2 separate regions of the Homo sapiens genome follow, and region 2 is linked to region 1. Evidence: fine-mapped expression QTL. A gene starts in region 1. The other region holds a variant in brackets. All regions are shown on one strand. Distances are between the middles of the regions.

Region 1 (12,475 bases):
AAGCTTAACTCTCAGTTCTCCGTCAAAGATCTTTGGCTCTGGAGTCCTCTCCTGGAGTCTCCCTGGCCTTTCCTGGCAGGACCCTGAGTGACCCAAGTGTCCTCCTGTTCTCCCTGGGTCCCGGCTCCTGGCTCCCGTGCCCTGCTGGCCTTCTTTGACAATTGCAGTGTTTGCTGTTCATCTAGCCATTCATTACCTGTCCATCCGTCCATCCAAACATCCATCCAGTGCCAGGCCAGTTGCTGCTGGTTGTGACAGACACATTCATCTCCTTCTTTTTTTTTTTTTTTTTTGAGATGGAATCTTGCTCTGTCTCCCAGGCTGGAGTGCAGTGGTGCAATCTCAGCTCACTGCAACCGCCACCTCCTGGGTTCAAGTGATTCTCCTGCCTCAGCCTCCCGAGTAGCTGGGATTACAGGTGCCCACCACCACACCCAGCTAATTTTTGTATTTTTAGTAGAGATGGGGTTTCACCATGTTGGCCAGGCTGGTCTCGAACTTCTGACCTCAAGTGATCTGATCGCCTCGCTTCTTGAAATTCTGGGATTACAGTCGTGAGCCACTGCACCTGGCCTCAAATTTTTCATTTCTGAGGGACTCCCCATCTCTGCCATTTCCCACCTCTGCCACCATCTTCCCTCCGTGCCAGACCCGAGAATGAAAATGCCATGAAGAGAGCTTTGCTGCATTTGTGTCCCTTTTTTTTTTTTCTGAGACAGAGTCTCGCTCTGTCGCCCAGGCTGGAGTGCAGGGGCACTATCTCGGTTCACTGCAGCCTCTGCCTCCTGGGTTCAAGGAATCTGACTGCCTCAGCCTCCTGAGTTACTGGGACTACCGCCGCGCGGCACCATGCCCGGCTAATTGTTGTATTTTTAGAGAGGAGGTTTCACCATGCTGGCCAGAGGTTTCACCATGCTGGCCAGGATGGTCTTGATCTCCTCACCTCGTGATCTGCCCGCTTCGGCCTCCCAAAGTGCTGGGATTACAGGCATGAGCCACTGCGCGGGGCCTGTGTCCTTCTTAAGAGCAAAGCAATCCAACAACCCCCAAAGGAAAAGTGCTGGAGGACAATGCTGCCTTTTCAGTTCTCAAAGCCTGCACATTCCTAGGTATGTTGCATAGACTTTCCCTCCAGGAGGTGAGGTTGCTGTAGTAAGGAGTCCTCACTCATCCTTGGCCAGGTCTTCTCTAGAGGTGAGTTCCCAAGGTAGAAGCGGTGCAAAGGCTGACCTAGAGGAGAGAGACTCGCAGCTCTCACTGGGATGGCAGCAAGCACTGGCCCATTTTCTCCTCTTCTGGGCTCTGCCAGGGTTGCGTAGGCTGTTTGGAAGAAAACAGGCTGTGAGCCCTTTGAATTGCCTGAAGATGGGGCAAAGCCATCTATACACAGGTGAAGTTATCTTTTTTTTTTTTTTTTTGAGATGGAGTTTCGCTCTGTCACCCAGGCTGGAGTGCAGTGGCGCAATCTCGGCTCACTGCAAGCTCCGCCTCCGGGATTCACGCCATTCTCCTGCCTCAGCCTCCCGGGTAGCTGGAACTACAGGCGCCCGCCAGCACACCCGGCTAATTTTTTTGTATTTTTAGTAGAGACGGGGTTTCACCGTGTTAGCCAGGGTGGTCTTGATCTCCTGACCTCATGATCCATCCGCTTCGGCCTCCCAAAGTGCTGGGATTGCAGGCGTGAGCCACCGCGCCCGACCGAGGTTATCTTTTTTTAATTTTTTTGAGACAGAGATTTGCGCTGTCGCTCAGGCTGGAGTGCAGTTGCACAGTCTCCGCTCACCGCAGCCTCCACATCCTGAGTTCAAGCGATTCTCCTGCCTCAGCCTCCCGAGTTGCTGGGATTACAGGTGTGCCCCCACCACACCTGGCTAATTTTTGTGTTTTTAGTAGAGATTGGGTTTTACCATGTTGACCAGGCTGGTCTCGAACTACTGATCTCAAGTGATCTGCCCTCCTCAGACTCCCAAAGTGCTGGCATTACAGGTGTGAGCCACCATACCTGGCTGATGCTCTCTGGTGAGGTGATCTAATTCTGGGCTGATCACCTGGAAAGGTAAAGCCCGGGAGAGAAAATAGAAACGCAGAAAGAGTGTTCAGAATCTATGAGGCTCATTAAATTACACAGAGGAATAGAAATGTGGTGTGAATCAGATGTGCATACAGTCTTGGACAGTTTTTCAGGAACAAGTTTTCCTTTAAAAAAAAGTTATGTATTCATTCCTTGTAAATAGGTAATCCAGGCCAGGCGTGATGGCTCATGCCTATAATCCCACCACTTTGGGAGGCCAGCGTTGGAGGACTGCTTGAGCCCAGGAGTTCAAGACCAGTTTGGGCAACATAGCAAGATCCCATCTCTACCAAAAAAAAAAAAAAAAAAAAAGTAAAAGGCTGGGCACGGTGGCTTACACCTGAAATCCCAGCACTTTGGGAGGCCAAGGTGGGCAGATCACATGAGGCCAGGAGTTCGAGACCAGCCTGGCCAACATGGTGAAACCCTGTCTCTACTAAAAATACAAAAATTAGCTGGGCGTGGTGGTGGGCACCTGTAATCCCAGCTACTCGAGAGGCTGATGCAGGAGAATTGCTTGAACCTGGGAGGCAGAGGTTGCAGTCAGCCGATATCATGCCACTGCACACCAGCCTGGGCAACAGAGCGAGACTCTGTCTAAAAAAAAAAAAATTAGCAGGGAGTGGGTGGCGTGCACCCGTAGTCTTAGCTACTCAGGAGGCTGAGGTGGGAGGATCACTTGAGCCCAGGCGTTTGAGGCTGCAGTGAGCTATGACTATGCCACTGTACTCCAGCCTGGGTGACAGAATGGGACCCTGCCTATTAAAATAAGAAAAAAAAAAAAAAAAGGTAATCCAAGCATATAGCACATAATTTTTAAAGGTGCCCAAGAGTACATAGCAAAGAATTAGTCTCTTTCCTATTCCTGTGCCCAAGTCCTTCAGTTTCCCTCCCAGAGACAACACTGTTACCAATTTAATGTGTGCATCTTTCTTGATATTTCCTCTGAAAATAACAAGTGTGTGTGTATGTGTATTTTAAATATATACAAATGGGTATATTATACACACTGTTTTGAACTTTGTTCTTTTCACTTGAGTATATTTTGGAGTTTTTTTTCCTTCTAGCACATATACTATATGTGTTGGGGCAGATTTAGAAAGCAGGAAAAGTTCATCTTGTTCTCAATAACCCTGAGCTTTGCTTCAGATCAAGCTGTTTCTTACTTCTGCCTCAGAGGCTGGACCCTGTCAGAGGCTGGACCCTGCTTCTTACTTCTGCCTCAGAGTGTAGTCCCCGGATCACCTGAAGCTGTCCTGCTCAGTGAGACATCCTGCCGTATGACAGGTTTCACTGAAAGGATCGTGTCCTTTCTTCTTACTGAATTCCCCACATCTAGAATTCGTTCTCACAGTTTAATACGTGCTAGGAGGACCAGTGTCAGCTCCCTATGTGGCTACTCAATTCTTTTTCTAGGTCTTATAGGTGGGGGAAGGATTTTCTGGGCAGTGTGGGAGGTTATCTCAGATCTCCATCTCTACTTTGTGGAAAGAGCCTGGCAGGGGCTGTGCACCGGTGGTGGCTTCCGTATTACTGAGGCCATGGTGAGTCCTTTTCCTGAAGAGGTCTGAAATGTAGAAAGCAGAATGTAACTTGGCCCTTGCTTAACATTAAAAGACTGGTTAGAGGATCGCTTGAGGTCAGAAGTTCGAGACTAGCTTGGGCAACATAGTGAGACCCTGTCTCTAAAAACAAAACAAAAGGTGGGCGCGGTGGCTCACACCTGTAATCCCGTCACTTTGGAAGGTGGAGCCGGGCAGATCATCTGAGGTCAGGAGTTTGAGACCAGCCCGGCCAACATGGCAAAACCCTGTCTCTAATAAAACTACAAAAAAATTAGCTGGGCATGGTGGCAGGCGCCTGTAATCCCAGCTACTGGGGAGGCTGAGGCTGAAGAATCACTTGAACTCGGGAGGCGGAGGTTGTAGTGAGCCAAGGTCATACATACCATTGCACTCCAGCCTGGGCAACAAGAGCGAAACTCCATCTCAAAACAAAAACAAACAAACAACAAAATTGCTGTCTACCATCTTATAGTCAGTTTTCTTATCTATCTCTGTGTGTGTGTGTGTATACACCCACACACATATATACACACACACACATATACACACAAACACACACACACACACACATATATATAATTATTATTTTTTTTTTTGGGTGAGAGGCAAGGTCTCAGTCTGTCACCCAGGCTGGAGTGCAGTGGTGCCATCATGGCTCACTGCAGCCTAGAACTCCTGGGCTCACGGGACCCTCCTGCCTGGGTTTCCCAAACTGCTGGGATTACAGGCGTGAGCCACCACACCCAGTCAGCTGATTATCTGTAGAAGGAGATATCATATGTACCTTAGACAGTTGCTGTAAAGATCAAATGAGGTCCACACAAAAACTTCTTTTTTTTTTTTTTTTTGAGACGGAGTCTCACTCTGTTGCCCAGGCTGGAGTGCAGTGGCACAATCTTGGCTCACTGCAACCTCCACCTCCCGGGTTCACGCCATTCTCCTGCCTCTGCCTCCCGAGTAGCTGGGACTACAGGCGCCAGCCACCATGCCTGGCTAAATTTTTGTATTTTTAGTAGAGACGGGGTTTCACCGTGTTAACCAGGATGGTCTCGATCTCCTGACCTTGTGATCCGCCCACCTCGGCCTCTCAAACTGCTGGGATTACAGGCGTGAGCCACTGCACCCGGCCACACACAAAAACTTCTACACAAATGTTCATAGCAGCATCATGTATAATAGCCAAAAAAGTAGAAACAGATGTCCATCAATGGATTAATGGATAAATAAAAGATGATGTCCAGCCAGGCACGGTGGCCCATGCCTGTAATCCCAGCACTTTGGGAGGCCAAGGCAGGCAGATCACTTGAGGCCAGGAGTTCAAGATCAGCCTGGGCAACTTGATGAAACCCCGTCTCTACTAAAAATATAAAAATTAGCCAGGCATGGTGGCACATGCATGTAATTCTAGCTACTTTGGAGGCGGAGGCATGAGAATCACTTGAGCCCAGGAGGTGGAGGTTGCAGTGAGCCAAGATCACATAACTCCACTCCAGCCTGGGAGACAGAGTGAGACTCTTCAAAAAAAAAAAAGGTGATGTCTGTATAATGGACTATTATTCGGCCGTAACAAGGAATGAAGTGCCGATACATGCTACAACATGGATGAACTTTGAAAATATTATACTGTGTGCAAAGGAAGGTAGTTACCTTCCCGGGTTCAAGCAATTCTCCTGCCACAGCCTCCCCAGTAGCTGGGACGACAGGCGTCCGCCACCATGCCCGGCTAATTTTTGTATTTTTAGCAGGGACGGGGTTTCACTATGTTGGCCAGGCTGGTCTCGAACTCCTGACCTCAGGTGATTCACCAGCTTTGGCTTCCCAAAGTGCTGTGATTAGAGGCATGAGCCACCCCACCTGGCCTAGCAGAGAGCAATTTTGAATACAGCTGTTAGATTCTGCACTCATGCCTTCTCTAATCCATGTCACTGGAGTAGAAATAATTGCTTTGACAGAACCTGGTGTAGATGTGTCTGTAGGAAGAAACTGTAAAATGAATGGATCATTTTGTGAAATATCTGCCCTTTCCCCACCTTTCTTTTGCTTCTTTGCCTTTTTCTCCCTAGTTTTCATTTCTTTCTTTTAGGGCGTCAGCCCCCCACCTCTGTGGTTGGGAGGGACTATTGCACGTCTACACTCTCGTGGGGATGAAATAGTGTTTGAGTTCGTTATTTGCATTTGCGCGTTATCTCCCCGAGGAGATGACAGCTTCTCTGCCAGCAGCGGGCAAAGGTGGGCTCTGAAGCAGAGGAGAGGAATTATCAGGAAAAGCTCATTTTCTTCTCCTGTCCTAGGGTTTCACTGATGAAGGCCTCTGGGACACCCACGTTGGGGGTGGGGGCGGTGAGGACCGCCACCTGCCCGCGGCTCCCCTGCAGCCAGGCCACGCGCGCTGTTGCTAGGGCAACCACCCGGCCAGGCCTGCGGCTGCCGGGAAGCCCCCTCGGGAGCGCGCACGGGAAGGGCTGTGGGGGCGCTGGCCGGCTGCGACGTCAGACCCCCGCCCCTCGGCGCCTGCCGGACCCAGCTCCATTCCCAGCCGCGCCTCCTTCGGTGGGCAGCCGGCCGGAACTCACGAATCAGAGCAGCCGACACATCGTCCGCTCAGCCAATCGTAGCAGATGTGTGATCCCGCCACCTCCCCGGACCCTGGCGGTTGTCGCTGAGTTGGCGACCGCGGGAGACGCTGCTGAGGCGGCTTCGGTTGCGGGTCGGAACGGCGCTGCTCTGCGGGGCCGGTCCAGGCTGGCAGCTGCCGGCGCTTGGCGGTGAGGGCGGGCTCCCGAGTGGCCCCCCACCGAAGGCGGTGGGACCAGCGGCTGAGGCCAGGATGCCGTCCAGGCGGCGCGGCGGCTCCTCACTCATCCCAGGTAAGGGGGACGCGGCGCTCGCTGCGGCTCCGCTCCCCTCTCGTCTCCTCACACCCGGCCCTGTGCCCCGTCCTGGCATCCCTTGGCCCCTTGTCGCCTTCTGCTCGGTGCCTCCCGGTTGTCCAACCCCGCCCCCGAGCGCGGAGCCCCGGGTCTGGCCCGTCCGGCCCCTGCTCCCACGCCCCTTCCCCCATCGCCGGCATTTCCCGGGCTCGGCTTCGCCCCGGCCGCCGGGGCCTCTCCCCTCTGCCCTTTCTCTCCCTTCTCGCAGCCCTGGGACCACGTCCTAGCCCCGCAGTCCCCTGGGATGAGACCCTCGTCTCGCCGGGATCGGACATTTGCCCCCACGTCTACCCCGGCTGCGCTTCTTGAGCTCATCGCCCCATCATCCTACCCGTTGTACGTAGTCCTGTCTGCATGGCAGTCGCCCGCCCCGCTCCAGGTGTCCCTGGGTCTTGCCCTTTTGCTCCTAAGCACCTTCCTTTCCCAACTCGCCTCTTCTCCCCTCACTTTGACCACCCACCATCGCAATCTCCTCTTCCTTCTCTTACTCTTAAACCTCCAGACACTTTCCCACTCTCTGCAATGCCGGATTCATCGCTTTTTTTTTTTTTTTTTTTGAGAGATGGAGTCTCTATGTTGCCCAGGCTGGCTTCGAACTCCTGACCTCAAGCTATCCTTCTGCCTCGGCCTCCAAAGTGCTGGGATTACAGGCGTGAGCCACTGCGCCTGGCTCAGATCCATAGTGTAATATCTTCATTCGTCCTTACATGAGCTGCACCCCATAACATGTAAAGTCCCTTGCCCAGAGTCTAGCACACAGTAGGCCTGGCACATGGTGGGTGGTCACGCATGTTAGCCTCTTCCTCCTTCCAGGCGTTTTGTACTTTCCAGATGATGGTAGCAAGAAGTCCAGTGTCCACAGGGATTTGACTCTGCCTGAAGAATGGTATGGGAGATGGCAGGAGAAATTGGTGAACTCCAGTAAAGCGATTAAATGGTCAATTACTGCATTCATTAAGAAGAAACAATTCTGCTATCCGTGCCATGTATTGTTTTATGTTAATTGCCTTTGTAAAGGATTCTTAGGCTGCTAGTCAGCAGGCTTTGCGGTGTAATTACTCCCCATCCCCTCTCCATCCCCATCTGCAGTGTTTGGGTAACTTTCTTTTTAGGAAAGAAAGAGCCCCTACCTCCCAGCTAAAGTGGCATAGTATATAAGCAATGTGGTACGTGTTTATCTATTAGCTGGATAGTCCAGGGAGCTGCAATGAATTTTCATCTTTTAAGATCCAGGAGGAATCAGGATTTGGATTTCCTGGAATCAGCTGCTGTACAGACCAAATATGCTTAAGAATGAAACTTCTGACAAGTCCTCTAAGAGTGAGAGAGGAATTATCCACCCCTCTCCCTCCCCCTCTCCAAACACTCGCTCTTGGAGGAAATAGCGAGTCGATTTTTAAAAAAGAGTAAAATACGTTTGACTTTTTAAAATGATAAAAGCATTGTCATTGGCCCTGTACTATTCTTGCCACCTTTGCTCTGATGGTCTCAAGCCTGGACGAATCAGTCAGCTTTTTCTGCTCCTGGGCTCCCAAGGCAGACTGGCAAAAATCATATAACTAAACTGCTGGGTGCTGTTTCTGCACTTCTGGATCCTGGAGATCCTTTGACTTAACCTCTAGATTCCTCTTATGTCCTAAAATCTAAATGGCTGTTTATGGATCTTTACCATTTTTCTCTGACTCTTTGTCCTACTCTTGCCTTCTCTTCATTGCTTATTTTGCCACTTAACTTCACAGAATAAATTGGTGGGCATCAGCCCTGAACTCTTAAGGAGAGGTCATTTTTGTCTGTGCCTGTCTGTACCTGATTTCTAATATCCTTTCCTCTGATCTCAGAAGAAGAGGGGTCTTACTTTCGAAAGCTAACGTCTTTGATCTCTTCCCATATTATTATTTTTTCTGTTGGATGGTATACATCCTCAGGTTTCCACCATTCAGACCAAAACAAAGCTTTTCTTGATGCTTCCCTTTTCTTTTTTTATTCTTCTCAGATTAACGTGGCATTCCTTAGGGTTTCATTTTTGTTCTTTTCTCTAATTTCCTTGTGTGATTACACTTCCTTTCATGGCTTCAAATAGCACCTATATATTTATGGTTTTCAAAGACGTCTATTTAGTCCCCGTTTCTCTTGAACCTCAGGTTCTAATTTTCATCTGCCTACTGCATAGCTGTATGTGGATGCTTGATTACTTCAAATGTGGTTACCTTTTCCTTCCCTTTCTCTCCACCCATAGCCCCCTTTAAGCACATATACAAACATTACTATTTTAAGATCTTTACTCTAGAAACCTTAAAATCATCTTCTTTTCTCCTCACATTAAGTCTAGCATAGATCCTATTGTTGTTGCTACCTCAGATCTTTTTTTTTCCTCTCTTCATAACATCTTTTTTTTTTCTCTCTCTTCATTGCCAGAAGACTGGTTCAGACCTTGGTTATGCTTTTTCTGAACCTCTGGGTCCTGTAGTCTACTTAATCCTCCACGTTGCTGCTGGAATTGGTTCCATTTCTGAACTATCAATCTGATCATGCTGCTTGTTTTCTTTAAAAATTCTCATCAGCTCCCAAACCCTTAGCATGTTGAGCCAGTCCTTCCAAGCCTTCTGTAGCATGGGCGCATCCCCTTCCTGGGCCCTTTGTGATCCAGAGAAAAAAGCAGTAAAGAAACAGACCATTCACTACCGTAAAATCAAGACTGTGACAGAGATGACTACAGGGTGCTCTGGGAGCATCACCCTGGTGAGAGTGAGGACAAGTTTCTGTCTACAGGCACCTAGGACTTTTTCTGACTACCCCTCCTCCTTAGTTTGGGTTAGGTGACTTTTCTTTGTGTTTCCACAGCACCCTGTACATACTTCCATCTCCATTTTTACCACTTATACCATTTTTAGTTTTTTTTTTGTGACACAGTCTTGGTCTGTTGCCCAGGCTGGAGTGCAGTGGTAACATCTTAGTTCGCTGCAACCTCTGCCTCCAGGGTTTGAGTGATTCTCGTACCTCAGCCTTCCGAGTAGCTGGGATTACAGGCGCCTGCCACCACACCCAGCTAATTTTTGTATTTTTAGTAGAGACAGGGTTTCATCATGTTGGACAGGCTGGTCTCAAACTCCTGACCTCAAGCAGTCTGCCTGCCTCAGCCTCCCAAAGTGCTGGGATTACAGGCGTGAGCCACTGTGCCCAGCCCATTTTTACTATTTATAATGTTCTGTTTTCTTATTTTTCTCACTGACTTGAGAGTGAACCCTTTAAGAGAAAGAGTTGTGTCATATCTCATTGTATCTCCAGTTTCTAGCAAATTGCCAAGTACATAGTGCTCAGTAAACTAAGTTTTCAGAAGAGCTGAATCTAGACAAGGAAAGGTAAGGGGAGATGGGCAGTTTGGAAGAGAAGGTAACATATGGAAAAGTGTGTCTTAGGCTAGGCGCGGTGGCTCACGCCTGTAATCCCAGCATTTTGGGAGACTGAGGCAGACGGATCAAGACCATCAAGACCAGCCCGGCCACATGGTGAAACCCCATCTCTACTAAAAATACAAAAATTAGCCGGGCGTGGTGGTGGGCGCCTGTAATCCCAGCTACTCAGGAGGCTGAGGCAGGAGAATCGCTTGAACCTGGGAGGCAGAGGTTACAGTGAGCTGACTCCAGCCTGGGCAGCAGAGTGAGACTCCATCTCAAAATTAAAGAAAAAAGAAAAATGTGTGATAACCTGGTGCTTTTGGGAAAGAACTGGTAATTTGGAAAGGCTGGAGAATGGGCATAATGAGCAATGAGGCTGGGAAGGTATATGGGAGCCGCTCATGAATGACCTTGTGTGTCCTAACACATAATCCTGATGATAGCGAGGAACCTTTGAAGGATTTCTTCCTGGGCAGATCTTACAAAGTCTGGCTTGTTCCCATCTCAGGCTTTGTGTCTTGCTGCATGCCTTGCCTTTTGCCTCAGCCATATAAAATCACCTCTATTACCTGAACATGCCTAAATGGCTTTATGTTTCTCTTTCTCCGTGGAATGCGTTTTCCCACTTAGCCACCTGTAGATTATACAGGCTTCTGGTTATCTCTGCAGTAAAGCATTCCCACATCTGCCTGCAATCCATGTCTCTTCATCTCTACTGTCATTTACTTGTTTACATGTCTTTCTCTACTCTAAGGGTAGGGCTTTGAAATCAGGATGGGTTTTGATTCATGTCTGCATCCCCTACTCTGGCAGGTAACATGAATGAGTATTGTGACCAGGTATATTTTGATTATGTTTATTTATTTTTCTAGAGATGGGAGTCTTGCTATGTTGCCCAGATTGGTCTTGAACTCCTGGCTTCAGGTAACCCTCTGCCTTGACTTCCCAAAGTGTTGGGATTATGGGTGTGAGTCACTGCGCCTGGCCCCAGGTGTATTTTCAGAAAAATTACTCTGATCTCTGGTAGCATTGTAGAGAACAGGTTAGAGAGGGGCAAGACTAGGTGCACAAAGACCAATAGGTGGTCATTATAGGAATGTAGGTGAAAGATAATGAGGCCAGTGAGGCTAAGGGGTTAGATTTGGGAGTGAATTTGTGGAGTAAGGAGAACTGGTTAGGTGTATAGGTGAGAGAGAGGGAGAAGGAAGGGTCAAGGATGACATACTGAGTTCAGGCTTGGGTGTCTGGGTAATGGTGGTTCTGTTCATCCAGGTAGGAAATACAGGAAAATAAACAAATTTTGAGGGAAAAGGAGGAAGCCAATGATAACATCTTGATGCCCAGGAAATCGCCTGAGAGAGCAGTTGGCCCTAAAGATGGAGATATATATGGAGGGTCTGTGCTAGAATTGAAAGTGAAGTCATCAGAAGTAGGTGAGATTGCCTGGTTCAGTGATTTTCAACATAGGCACTACTTAAAAACCACCTGGGGAGCTTTTAAAGAATGAGGATGGGGGATCGAGGCATCCACAGGGATTCTGTATCATTTGGTCTGGTGCAGGGCCAGACCTTGTTACTTTAAAGATGCTTCCCATGAGATGGTGATAGGTATCTAGGACTGAGAACTGGGCTGAGAGCCCAAAGAGGGAGTGATAGAACCCTGAAGAACAATAGTAGTAACTCATCCTTTAAATATCAGGACAGCTGGGTGTGGTGGCTCACACCTGTAATCCCAGAGTTTGGGCAGATTGAGGTGGGAGGATTGCTTGAGACCAGGAGTTTGAGATCAGCCTGGGCAACATAGCAAGATCCCTGTCTCTACAAAATAGGAAAAAACTAGCCAGGCACATGTGATGGCACATGCCTGTAGTTCCAGCCATGTAGAAGGCTGAGGCAGGAGGATTGCTTGAGCCCAGGAGTTTGAGGCTGCAGTGAGCTATGATCATGCCATTGCTCTCCAGCCTGAGTGACAGAGTGAGACCGTCTGTCTGTCTGCCACACACACGCGCGCGCACACACACACACACACCAGGATAAATATTGCCTTTGTTGACATAGTTTCTTGCTTTCCTGGTACTGTGTACATTTACCTATTAAAGGAGTTATCACATTTTATTTAAATTATATCTGCTGGGTCCATTTTTATTTTTATTTTATTTTTATTTTTTTTTTGAGATGGAGTTTCGCTCTTGTTGCCCAGGCTGGAGTGCAATGGCGCGATCTTGGCTCACCGCAACCTCCGCCTCCCAGGTTGAAGCAATTCTCCTGCCTCAGCCTCCTGAGTAGCTGAGATTGCAGGCATGCACCACTACGCCCAGCTAATTTTGTATTTTTAGTAGAGACGGGGTTTCTCCATATTGAGGCTGGTCTCGAACTCCTGACCTCAGGTGATCTGCCCACCTCAGCCTCCCAAAGTGCTGGGATTACAGGTGTGAGCCACCACGCCCGGCTGGTCCATTTTTATAGCTAAGGAATTCCTTGAAGTCTGAAACCATGCCTTATTTATCTTTTCATC
Region 2 (12,475 bases), 340 kb after region 1:
GACAGAGGCGTGGCACTGTGGGCTGAAAGCAACAGATTTAGGGGAAACTATCTTTAAGACTAAGCCTTCTTTCTATAGCTACTGTCGGGGAGGCCGGGCATGGTGGTTCACATCTATAATCCCAGCACTTTGGGAGGCTGAGGCGGGCGGATCACCTGAGGCCAGGAGTTCAAGACCAGCCTGAGCAACATGGTGAAACCCTGTCTCTACTAAAAATACAAAAATTAGCCAGGCATGGTGGCAGGCACCTGTAATTCCAGATACTCAGGAGGCTGAGGCATGAGAATCAGTTGAACCCAGGAGGCAGAGGTTGCAGTGAGCCAAGATCGTACCACTGTACTCCAGCCTGAGTGACAGAGCGAGAGCGAGAGAGAGAGAGAAAGAAAGAGAGAAAGAAAGAAAGAAAGAAAGAAAAAAAGAAAAGAAAAAGAAAGAAAGATGAAAGAAAGAAAGAAAGAAAGAAAGAAAGAAAGAAAGAAAGAAAGAAAGAAAGAAAGAAAGAAGGAAGGAAAGAAAAGAAAGAAAAACTGTAGGGGAATCTGAGACACCAGGAAACCCAGGGCTCATGGTAGAGTGGAAAGACCAGGGCTTTGGGGTCGACACAGAGTACTCTTGGTGCTTAGTGGCTGTGTGACCTTGGGTAAGTTTCTTTACCTCTCTGAGCCTCTGTGTCCTTGGCTGCAGTGTCTAGGAAAGCATCTGCACACAGTGATGTGTGTGGTCCAGGCCATCCTTTCTCTGTTCTGTGCACCCACGGCCATGCCTGCTGAGAATCCTGCCACCAATGATTCCTCAGTGGCATGGGGAGAGATGGAACGTGCCGTTGCTTCCCTGCAGGTTCTAGGAGCTGGTCTTTGGGCCCAAGACTCCAACACCGTTGTCTGCATGGGATTTGGACAAGGGTGACCTTGATCCTTCCCACATCCCACTGCTGAAAGGAAGGGCCATGTTGGGCCACAGGAGATGAGAGTTCTAGGGGATGTGGAGCGTGGGGTCTTGGTGTGGCTGAATTAGAGGCATTACTCCATGAGATAGGGACACGGGAGGAGGACGTTGTCTGGAATGGCTGATATTTGCGGTGTCTTTGGGTACCCAGGGGGGCTGGTGGGCTGTGCCTGAAGACAGATGCAGCAACTCAGAGATGTGTAGAGATTCCTGAGTGTAGGTGTGGACGGACCAGGCCAGGGACCTGCAGGGTTTGGGAGGACCTGAGGGGGTGGGTGTTGGAGCCCTGGGAAAAGGAAGAACCAGGCCAAGCAGGTGCCCAGCCTCTGTCCTGTGGGAAGCTCCCTGCTCTTTGGGCAGCCCCCACATTGAGAATGGGGCCTCCATTCTGGCAGCTTGTGCACGGGAGGCCAAGCGACCCAGATAGGGTCTGCAGACTCCAAGCAGCACAGAGCACCAGCCCAGGAGATGCAGTTCCCAAGGCAGCCTCCTAAACAGAAGTGAGCTCTTCCCAGAGTTTTCAAGATTAAAAGAGCCAGGCACAGTGACTCACAACTGTAATCCCAGCACTTTCGGAGGCTGAAGCAGGAGGATCACTTGAGCCTAGGAGTTCAAGAATAGCCTGTGCAACAGAGAGAGATTCTCTCTACAAAAAATTTTAAAAAAACTTAGTCTGGCACGGTGATTCATGCCTGGAGCCCCAGCTACTAGAGAGGCTGAGTGGGGAGGACTGCTTGAGCCAAAGAGTTCAAGGCTGCAGTAAGTCATGACGGCACCACTATACTCCAACCTGGGAAACAGGGTGAAACCCTGTCTCAAAAAACAGGAGCCAGGCTGGGCACCATGGCTCACGCCTGTAATCCCAGAACTTTGGGAGGCCGAGGTGGGCAGATCACCTGAGCTCAGGAGTTCAAGACCAGCCTGGCCAACATGGCAAAACCCCATCTCTACTAAAAATACAAAAATTAACCGGATGTGGTGGCAGGCGCCTGTAGTCCCAGCTCTCAGGAGGCTGATGCACGAGAATGGCTTGAACCTGAGAGGCAGAGGTTGCAGTGAACCGAGACTGCGCCACTGCACTCCAGACTGGGCAACAGAGTGAGACTGTGTCTTGGAAAAACAAAGAGAAAAAAAAAAGGAGTCATTTTGTTCCAACGACTCATCAGTCTGCTCTGCCCTGCCTCATCCGGCCCTAGCTCCCTGCCTGCTTCTAGCTTCACCCCCCTCAACATCTCACCCTTACCCAACCTGCCTGCCCCAGAGGCCCAGCCCATGTGAACCCATGCTTCTCAGAGAGATTTCCTGTTGGACATGCAAACCAGCCTTCCTGCAATCCCAGCCCCATCCTCAACCCTGGCACAAACCCACAGGCTGCTGCAGAGCTCTGCCCCAGACCCCATCTCCAGCCCAACCACCCCTCAGCCTTACAGCCCAGCTCAGGCCCCGTCTCCAGGGCTAACTGACCCCAGCAGCAACTCTAGGCTACAGGGAGGGGAGAGCGGAGCACGCCGGGGCTCAAGCAGCAGATAAGCCGTGACAGTTGCCAGGGCAGTGAGCAGGGAGAATGCATAGCCCCCACACTCCCAGACACAGTCTGTTTCCCATTCACAGACCTTGGCCAGCGAGCAGTCAGGGGATTTCCAACAGCCCAGCACAGTGACACCGGCCCCTGTGCACGGACCCCGCTAGGCCCATCAGTTGTCTCCCCTGTACCACCCCCAAGTTCAGCCACTTCCAGGACAAGGGATCTTTCTTTTTTTTTCTTTTCTTTTTTTTGTTTTTTGGAGACGGAGTTTCGCTCGTCACCCAGGCTGGAGTGTAATGGCGTGATTTCGGCTCACTGCAACCTCTGCCTTCCGGGTTCAAGCAGTTCTCCTGTCTCAACCTCTTGAGTAGTTGGGATTACAGGTGCCCGCCACCACACTCGGCTAATTGCTGTATTTTTAGTAGAGATGGGGTTTTGCCATGTTGGCCAGGGTGATCTGCCCGTCTCAGCCTCCCACAGTGCTGGGATTACAGGCGTGAGCCGCCACACCTGGCCAGCATAGGATCTTTCACCCTTGAGTGCCTGTGCATGGCTGGTCCTTCTGCCCCGGTGTCTTCACACTGCCACTCCATCCTTCACAAACTCCTACCTGCCTTTTCAGAGCCCATTTTTTTTGTTGTTGTTTTCATTTTTATTTGAGACAGGTCTCTGTCTCCCAGGCTGCAGTGCAGTGACATGATCTCTGCTCACTGCAACCTCCACCTCCCAGGCTCAGGCGATTCTCCTGCCTCACCCTCCCGAGTAGCTGGGACTACAGGTGCCTGCCACCACGCCCAGCTAATCTTTTTGTATTTTTAGTAGAGACGGGGTTTCACCATGTTGGCCAGGCTGGTTTTGAACCCTTGGCCTCAAGTGATCTGCCTGCCTCTGCCTCCCAAAGTGCTGGGATTATAGGCATGAGCCACCAATGTCAGGCCTTGAGAGCCCATTCAAGCATCCTGCTCTCCTGGGGGAGGTCTCCCCAGACTTGCCCAGACAGGATGGGCATCCTCATTCATGCCCCTTGTCTCCTAAGTGTGTCTGTTGTACTTTGGTGACCAGGTGACACCCCCTCTGGCTGGGAGACCCTCAGGGGAGCAGCCCTGCCTCTTTAGGTTGTTTTGTGCCCAACACAGGGCCTATGCTGGGGACACTGATAAGAAAATGTCGGATGGGCTGGCCACCGTGGCTCACACCTGTAATTCCCGAACTTTGGGAGGCCAAGACGAGGATCGCTTGAGGCCAGGAGTTCAAGATCAGCCTGGGCAACATAGTGAGACTCCATCTCTACCAAAAATTTAAAAAATTAGGTATGGTGGCACACATCTGTATTCCCAACCACTCAGGAGGCTGAGGCAGTATGGATCACTTGAGCCTGGTATTTGGAGGCTGCCGTGAACTATCTGATTGCACCGCTGCCTTCCAGCCTGGGTGACAGAGCAAAACCATGTCTCAAAGAAAGAAAAATGGATGGATGGACAGACCAACAACTGGGGCTAGAAACCAGCTACAGCCAGGCACAGTGGCTCACGCCTGTAATCCCAACACTTTGGGAGGCCAAGGCGGGTGGATCACCTGAGCCCAAGAGTTTGAGACCAGCCTGAGCAACATGATGAAAACCCGTCTCTACTAAAAAATACAAAAATTAGCTAGGCATGGTGGTGCGGTGCCTGTGATTCCAGCTACTTGGGGGGCTGACGCAGGAGAATCACTTGAACCTGGGAGGTGGAGGTTGCAGTAAGCTGAGATCGCGCCTCTGCACTCCAGCATGGGCAACAGAGCGAGACTCTGTCTCAAAAAATAAATTAATTAATTAATTAAATAAAATAAATACGTAACTAAACAAACAAACAGCTGCATGGGAGTAGGCAGGGCCTGCAGAGAATGTTTTGGCAGGTCAGGGATGCCTGGTGGGAGAAGCAGCAGGTCTGGTGGCCAAGCCAGTGCCAACTCTCAGGCCCCCTTGTCTTCCTCTTTAGATGAAGATGATACCAACAGACTTGGGGAGGTGATCCTGCAGGAGCAGGTGAAGGAACTCTTCAACGAGAAATACAGTCAGTGTCTGTGGTCAGGGTCAGCACACCAAGCCCTCCTCCCGGGGAAAGGGGGAGGCCCTCCCTCCCTCTGCAGCCAGCCTAGCCTTCAGGAGCCCCCAGCTGGCCTGCCTGCTCCCTGGGGACATGGCTGCTCTGCCCATGACCCACATTTTGTGTATGTTGATTTTCTTTTTTTTTTTTTAAACAGCGTCTCACTCTGTTGCCCAGGCTGGAGTACAGTGGTGCAATGTCTGCTCACTGCAGCCTCCACCTCATGGGCTTAGGCAATCCTCCTGCCCCAGCCTCTCAAGTAGCTGGGACTACAAGCGTGCGCCACCACTCCCGGCTAATTTTTCTATTTTTAGTAGAGACGAGGTTTCACCATGTTGCCCAGACTGGTCTTGATCTTCTGGGCTCAAGCGATCCACCCGCCTTGGCCTCCCAAAGTGCTGGGATCGCAGGTGTGAGCCACCACCTGACATCCCTTTCCGGAACCCCAACACGTACGACATCCACTGGCTGGAGAAGATCCTGAAGGCCCGAAAGCATGTCCACATGGTCATCATTAGCCAGCTGCAGTGAGTGCCCAGCCTCTGGAACGGGGAACAGAGAGGGCAAGACCATGGGGAGGGTGAAAGTCAAGGTCATGGTGGGTCAGCTGGGATCCAGACCCAGGTGTACTACAATAGTTCCTGCCTCTTTCTCCTGAAACATACAACTTCAACACTTATGGACATTTACTTATTTTTAAAGATTTTTTTTTTTTTAGATATTATATTTGTTCTCTGGGGAAGAAACAAAAACATGTTTTAATTAAATTTGACTGTTTCTGACTATACAATTCTGATTTTTAACATTTAAATATAAATACGTTTGTATTTAAATATCAATGTTTAAATATAAATATGAATATTTATTATATTTTTTAAAATAATTATAATTCCATAGTCTCAGTGATTACCTTTTTTTCTTTTTTTTTGAGACAGGGTCTTGCTCTGTCACCGAGGCTGGAGTGCAGTGGCACGATCTCAGCTCACTGCAACCTTCACCTCCTGGCTTCAACCCATTCTCATGCCTCAGCCTCCCAAGTAGCTGGGATTACAGGTGTGCACCACCACCCTGGCTAATTTTTGTATTTTTTGGTAGAGATGGAGTTTCACCATGTTGGCCAGGCTGGTCTCGAGCTCCTGACCTGAAGTGATCTGCCTGCCTCAGCCTCCCAAAGTGCTGGGATTACAGGTGTGAGCCACTGCACCCAGCCTCCGTTATTACTACTATACCATATATCCTTACAGTCTTTTGGGTTTTGGTTTTTGTTTTGAGACAGGGTATCACTCTGTTGCCCAGGCAGGAGTACAGAGGTATGATCCTGACCCACTGCAGCCTCAACAGGGTCTCACTGTGTTGCCCAGGCTGGTCTTAAACTCTTAAGCTCAAGTGATCCTCCCACCTTGGCTTCCCAAAGTGCTGGGGTTACAGTCGTGAGCCACCACACCCAAACTGTGTGGCCCAGTCTTTTTTTTTTTTTTAATACAATAGATGATTCGCTTATTTTCAGAACAATACACAAAACAACCTGGAAAATATGAAAAGATAGAAGAAAAGAAGATAGCTGTAAGTCTCCTACTGAAAGTCAACACTTTGATGCATTTCTTTATATTTTTAAATTATTATTTTATTAATATATTATTACTTTATTTTTGAGATGGAGTCTCATTCTGTCGCACAGGCTGGAGTACAGTGGCGTGATCTCAGCTCACTGCAACCTCCACCTCCCAGGTTCAAGAATTCTCCTGTCTCAGCATCCTGAGTAGCTGGGACTACAGGTACATGCCACCACGCGTGGCCAATTTTTTTAAAATATTTTTAGTAGAGACGGGGTTTCACCATATTGGTCAGGCTGGTCTCGAACTCCTGACCTCAGGTGATCCACCCGCCTCGGCCTCCCAAAGTGCTGGGATTACAGGCATGAGTCACCACGCCCAGACGTTTGTTTTTTTTTTTTTTTTTATTGCACAGGTTAGTCTCAAACTCCTGGGCTCAAGCCATCCTCCCACATCGGCCTTTCTTTTTTTTTTTTTTAAGATGGAGTTTGCTTTAGTTGCCCAGGCTGGAGTGCAAAGGCACGATCTTGGCTCACTGCAACCTCTACCTCCCAGGTTCAAGCAATTCTCCTGCCTCAGCCTCCTGAGTAGCTGGGATTACAAGCATGCGCCACCACCCAAGCTAATTTTGTATTTTTAAGAGACGGGGTTTCTCCACGTTGGTCAGGCTGGTCTCGAACTCCCAACATCAGGTGATCTGTCTGCCTCAGCCTCCCAAAGTGCTGGGATTACAAGCTTGAGCCACTGCGCCCAGCCCGCCTTCAATGTTATATTACATGTATTGTTTCTTTGTTTTTTTGAGATGAGGTCTTGCTCTATCACCCAGACTGGAGTGCAGTGGCACCATCTTGGCTCACTGCAACCTCTTCCTCCGGCATTCAAGTGATTCTTGTGCCTCAGCCTCCCAAATAGCTGGGATCACATGTGCCTGCCCCCACACCCGGCTAATTTGTGTATTTTTGTAGAGACAGGGTTTCACCATGTTGGCCAGGCTGGTCTCGAACTCCTGACCTTAAGTGATCCGCCTGCCTTGGCCTCCCAAAGTGCT[G/C]GGATTACAAACATGAGCCACTGTGCTGACCTGCATGTTTTTTTAAATTAAGATAATATTTGCATGTGTCAAAAAAACCCAAATTGTTCAAAATCAAAAAGTGGAGGTTTCCCTTTCTCCCACAGATAGTTCACCCCCCCGAAGTAACAACTAGAAAATGCAGGAAAACGGCCAGGTGTGGTGGCTCACGCCTGTAATCCCAGCTACTCAGGAGGCTAAGGCAGGACAATCGCTTGAACCTGGGAGGTGGAGGTTGCAGTGAGCTGAGACCATGCCATAGCACAACAGCCTGGGCAACAGAGCAAGACTCCATCTCAAAAAAAAAAAAAATTAATTAATTAAAAAATAAATTAGACGGGCATGGTGGTGTGCACCTGCATTCCCAACTACTGGGAAGCTGAGGCAGAAGGACTGATTGAGCCCAGAACTTTGAGGCTGCCGTGAGCTAGGATGGCACCACTGAACTCCAGCCTGGGCAAAAGAGTAAGACTGTCTCAAAAATAGTAATTGATAATAATGCTGTGATGACTATCCACTTGCATAAATCTGGGCACACGTTTCTGATCCCTTGGTCAGACAATATCCTCGCTTTATAGATGAGGACAGCAGACCTGGAGGAATGATTTGCCAGCCCAGGTCCATCGTCCAGGGCCTATATGGGGAATGCTCTGTCGGGACGGTGTGTTCCCCATTTTTATTTCGGTGTTACCAGGCTCCTGCAGCAGCAGCAGCACCACATCTCAGAGGGCAGGTGAGAAGGAGGGGAAAACGGCCAAACGCAATGGCTCATGCCTGTAATCCCAGCACTTTGGGAGGCGGAGGCAGGCAGATCACCTGAGGTCAGGAGTTCAAGACCAGCCTGGCCAACACGGCGAAACCCCGTATCTACTAAAAATATAAAACTTAGCTGGGCGTGGTGGCGGGCACCTGTAGTCCCAGCTACTCAGGAGGCTGAGGCAGGAGAATGGTGTGAACCCAGGAGGTGGAGGCTGCCGTCAGCCAAAATTGTGCCACTGCACTTCGGCCTGGGTGACCAAGCGAGACTCCATCTCAAAAAAAAAAAAAAAAAAAAAAAAAAGGAGGGGAAAACCTCATTTTCTAACTGCCACCTCTTTTCTTTCTTTTTCAGACCCTTTGCAGAAATCTGCAATGATGCCAAGGTGCCAGGTGAGTCGGAGGCAAGGAAGCCACCCTTCTGCCCTGTGGGGACTAGACTGTTCCTTTTGAAAAAAAGGTAGAGCCGGGTGCAGTGGCTCACGCCTATAATCCCAGCACTTTGGGAGGCAAGCAGATCACTTAAGGTCAGGAGTTCAAGACCAGCCTGAGCAACATGGTGAAACCCTATCTCTACTAAAAATACAACAATTAGCTGGGCGTGGTTGTGGGCACCTGCAATCCCAGCTACTTGGGGGACTGAGGCAGGAGAATTGCTGAACCCGGAAGGCGGAGGTTGCAGTGAACTGAGATCACACCCCTGCACTCCAGCCTGGGAGACAGAGCAAGACTCCATCTCAAAAAAAAAATGAAAAAGACAGAGACACCAGGAGTTGGAGGCTGCAGTGAGCTATGATTGTACCACTGCACTCCAGCCTGAGCAACAGAGCAAGACCCTGTCTCTAAAAAAAAAATTTTAATAAATTTTTTAAAGGCAGAGATAGATGTGGTCCAGGTGGGCATGCAATAGATGGCTTACCACCTTGAAAAAAATATAGCCCCTCTCCACCCTGGTGCCTCCCCAGGGAGCCTGAGGTCTCCATGAACAAGGACAGGTATCCCCAAGAGGCCCCCCGAAACCTGCAGGTGCCCTACAGAGGGAAGGCCCTGCCATAGCACCAATGAGTGTATGAGGTCAGCTAGAAGGACAAGAGGCAGGCTGGGCCTCAGGGAGGATCATGGGGGCCTCCTGGGTAGCAGAGGGGTAGCATGTGACTGACAGGGGTGAGGCAGGCGGGCACTGCCAGAGACTGGCTGGACCCCCTCCGTTCTGCTGGCATCTGCAGGGTATACAGAACCTTTCACCAGGCACCTGGGGGCCACCTGGCATGATGGTTCCGATTAAGGTGTATGATAGGACTTGGGAGAAATTACTCACGGGTGACTATGATGTGCACCCGATTAAGAAACACTGTATCCCAGCACTTTGGGAGGCCAAGGCAGGCAGATCACTTGAGAACAGGAGTTCGAGCCCAGACTGACCAACATGGTGAAACCCTGTCTCAACTAAAAATAGAAAAATTAGGGCCAGGCACGGTGGCTCACCCATGTAATCCCAGCACTTTGGGAGGCCAAGGTGGGCGGATCACCTGAGGTCAGGAGTTGGAGACCAGCCTGGTCAACATGGCAAAACCCCATCTCTACTGAAAATACAAAAATTAGCCAGGCATGGTGATGCATGCCTGTAATCCCAGCTACTAGGCGGGCTGAGACAGGAGGATCACTTGAACTTGGGAGGCAGAGGTTGCAGTGAGCCAAGACTGTACCACTGCACTCCAGCCTGGGAAACAGAACAAGACTCTGTCTCAAAAAAAAAAAAAAAAAAAGAAAAAGAAAAATTAGCCGGCATGGTGGCGCACGCCTGTAGTCCTAGCTACTTGGGCGTTTGAGGTGGGAGGATGGCTTCAGCCCAGGAGGCAGAGGTTGCAGTGAGTCGAGATCACACCACTGCACTCCAAGCTGGATGACAGAGCAGGACTCTGTCTCAAAAAGAAAAAGAAAAAGAAACACTGATTGGCCAGGTGTGGTGGCTCACGTCTCTAATCCCAGCAGTTTGGGAGGCCTAAGTGGGAGGATTGCTTGAGTCCCGGAGTTTGAGACAAACCTGGGCAACATAATGAGACCGTGTCTCTACAAAAAGTTTTTTCTCCCATCCAACTACTAACCAGGCCCAACCCTGCTTCCCTTCTGAGATCAGGCAAGATCAGGCGCATTCAGGGTGGTATGGCCATAGACCAAAAAGTTTTTTCTAAAAATTAGCCAGGCGTGGTAGTAGGCACTTGTAGTCCCAGCTACACAGGAGGCTGAGGCCGGAGGATCACCTGAGCCCCAGAGTTTACGGCTGCAGTGAGCTATGATTATGCCACTGTACTCCTGCCTGGATGACAGAATGAGACCTCATCTCTTCTTTTTTTTCCCCCCAAGACAGAGTCTCGCTCTGTTGCCCAGGCTGGAGTGCAGTGGCACGATCTCGGCTCACTGCAACCTCTGCCTCCTGGGTTCAACTGATTCTCCTGCCTCAGCTTCCCAAGCAGCTGGGATTACATGCACCTGCCACCACGCCCAGCTGTTTTTTCTATTTTTAGTAGAGACAGGGTTTCCCCATGTTGGCCAGGCTGGTCTCGAACTCCTGACCTCATGATCCACCCACCCTGGCTCCCCAAAGTGCTGAGATTACAGGTGTGAGCCACTGCTCCCGGCCTTCTTTTTTTTTCCCAAGACAGAGACTCGCTCTGTCGCTCAGGCTGGAGTCAATCTTGCAATCTTGACTTACTGCAACCTCCACCTCCTGAGTTCAAGCGATTCTCATGCCTTAGCCTCCCGAGTAGCTGAGACTTCAGGCATGCACCACCACACCCAGCTAATTCTTTGTATTTTTAGTAGAGGCGAGGTTTCACCATGTTGGCCAGGCTGGTCTCAAACTCCTGACCTCAAGTGATCCTCCCACCCCAGCATCCCAAAGTGCTGGGATTACAGGTGGGAGCCACTGTGCCTGGCTGAGACCCCATCTCCTAAGAAATAAAAAAGAAGAAGAAAGAAAAAATATTGATCTAATCTTACCCCACCTCATTGTACAGCTGGGAAGCTGAGGTGCAGAGATGCCAGGGACTTGCCCAGGCCACAAAGTGAGTCAGACGCTGTGCAGACCGTGCTGTCAGGACCATCCATCTGAACCACCACAGGGCCCAGTATGGCTGCTCAGCAGGGACAGTGATAGGATTCAGCAAGGCCACGCCACAACCTGGCCTGAGACCCTAGGCCCTGACTCCTGTCAGGACCAGGTTCACCTGGAACTCCACAGCCTGGGGTGGCATAGCCCAGCTAGAAGCCACCTCCTTCCACCAAGAGCTGATCACAAACCTGGGCCATGTAGTGAGACTGCCCCCGTCTCTGCAAAAAAATTAAAAATTAGTCAGGCGTGGTGGCGCGTACCTATTGTCCCAGCTACTCAAGAGGATGAGGCAGGAGGAGTGCTTGAGGCCGGCAGGTGGAGGCTGCAGTGAGCTATGATTGCGCCACTGTGCTCCAGCCTGGGCAACCGGGTGAGACACTGTTTCCCAAAAAAAAAGAGCCAGTTACAAGGGTCAGGCCTGGCACTGAACATACAGATCTGGAGGCGACCTGGTTTGCTCTCAGGTCAAAGGCAGAGACAGGCCGGGCGCGGTGGCTCACGCCTGTAATCCCAACGCTTTGGGAGGCTGAGGCAGGGAGGTGGGTGGATCACCTGAGGTCAGGAGTTCGAGACCAGCCTGGCCAACATGGTGAAGCCCCGTCTCTACTAAAATCCAAAAAAAAAAGATTAGCCGGGGTTGGTAGTGGGCGCCTGTAATCTCAGCCACTCAGGAGGCTGAGGCAGGAGAATCAGTTGAACCCAGGAAGTGGAGGTTGCAATGAGCCGAGATCATGCTACTCTACTCCAGCCTGGGGAACAAAGCCAGGCTCTGTCTCAAAAAAAAAAAAAAAAAAAAAAGAGCAAACAAAAAACAAAAAACATGGCAGAGACACAGAAGGCCACATAAATGCCTCAGGAAGATTTGGGACAGATGCCCAGAGGGTGGGCACTGTCACCCACATCCACCACTCCCTCCAATATGGCCATCTCTCATGGTGACTCAAGGATGGCCACAGCCCATGGACCAGTCTGAGACAGAGGGTGGGGCAGCATCTGACTTCTTTTTCATGTTGAATATCCCACAAAAATCCCTCTGACTCATAGCCTGGGCTCCTCCTGCCTCCAGGGTCTTCTCTTTCCCAGGGTCTCTATGCCACATCACAGACACCTAGTTTCTGACTTTTCTCCACCAATTGAAGAGACATTTGCCCCGTGGACCGAGCCTGCCCTTACTCTGTGTCATTAAGACCCTTCTGGTGGGCTGAGTGCAGTGGCTCACGCCTGTAATCCCAGCACTTTGGGAGGCTGAAGCAGGAGAATTCTTTGAGCCCAGGAGTTCAAGACCAGACTGGGCAACATAGACTCCGTCTCTACAAAAAATTAGCCAGGCAGGGTGGTGTGCACCTGTAGTCCCAGCTACTCAGGAGGCTGAGGCAGGAGGATCGCTTGAGCTTGGGAGATGGAGGCTGCAGTGAGCCAAGACCACACCAC

The links. PIP is the estimated chance that this variant, and not a neighbour inherited with it, causes the effect.
Region 2: its variant is the best candidate, but not a certain one, in a credible set for the expression of TPST1 in whole blood (TOPMed, PIP 0.69).

The regions. Positions count from the first base shown.
Region 1 is chr7:66,199,020-66,211,494 of GRCh38, forward strand. It overlaps TPST1 (tyrosylprotein sulfotransferase 1), which reads left to right and starts at 6,315. Exons shown (of 6, transcript NM_003596.4): 1 at 6,315-6,503. RefSeq lists silencers at 5,938-6,207, 6,358-6,717.
Region 2 is chr7:66,540,588-66,553,062 of GRCh38, forward strand. It overlaps the pseudogene LOC100420547 and the pseudogene RABGEF1P1. Among named protein-coding and RNA genes, the nearest start is that of LINC03011, 53 kb to the left of the region's middle. The variant G/C (reference allele first, on the strand shown) is at 7,159.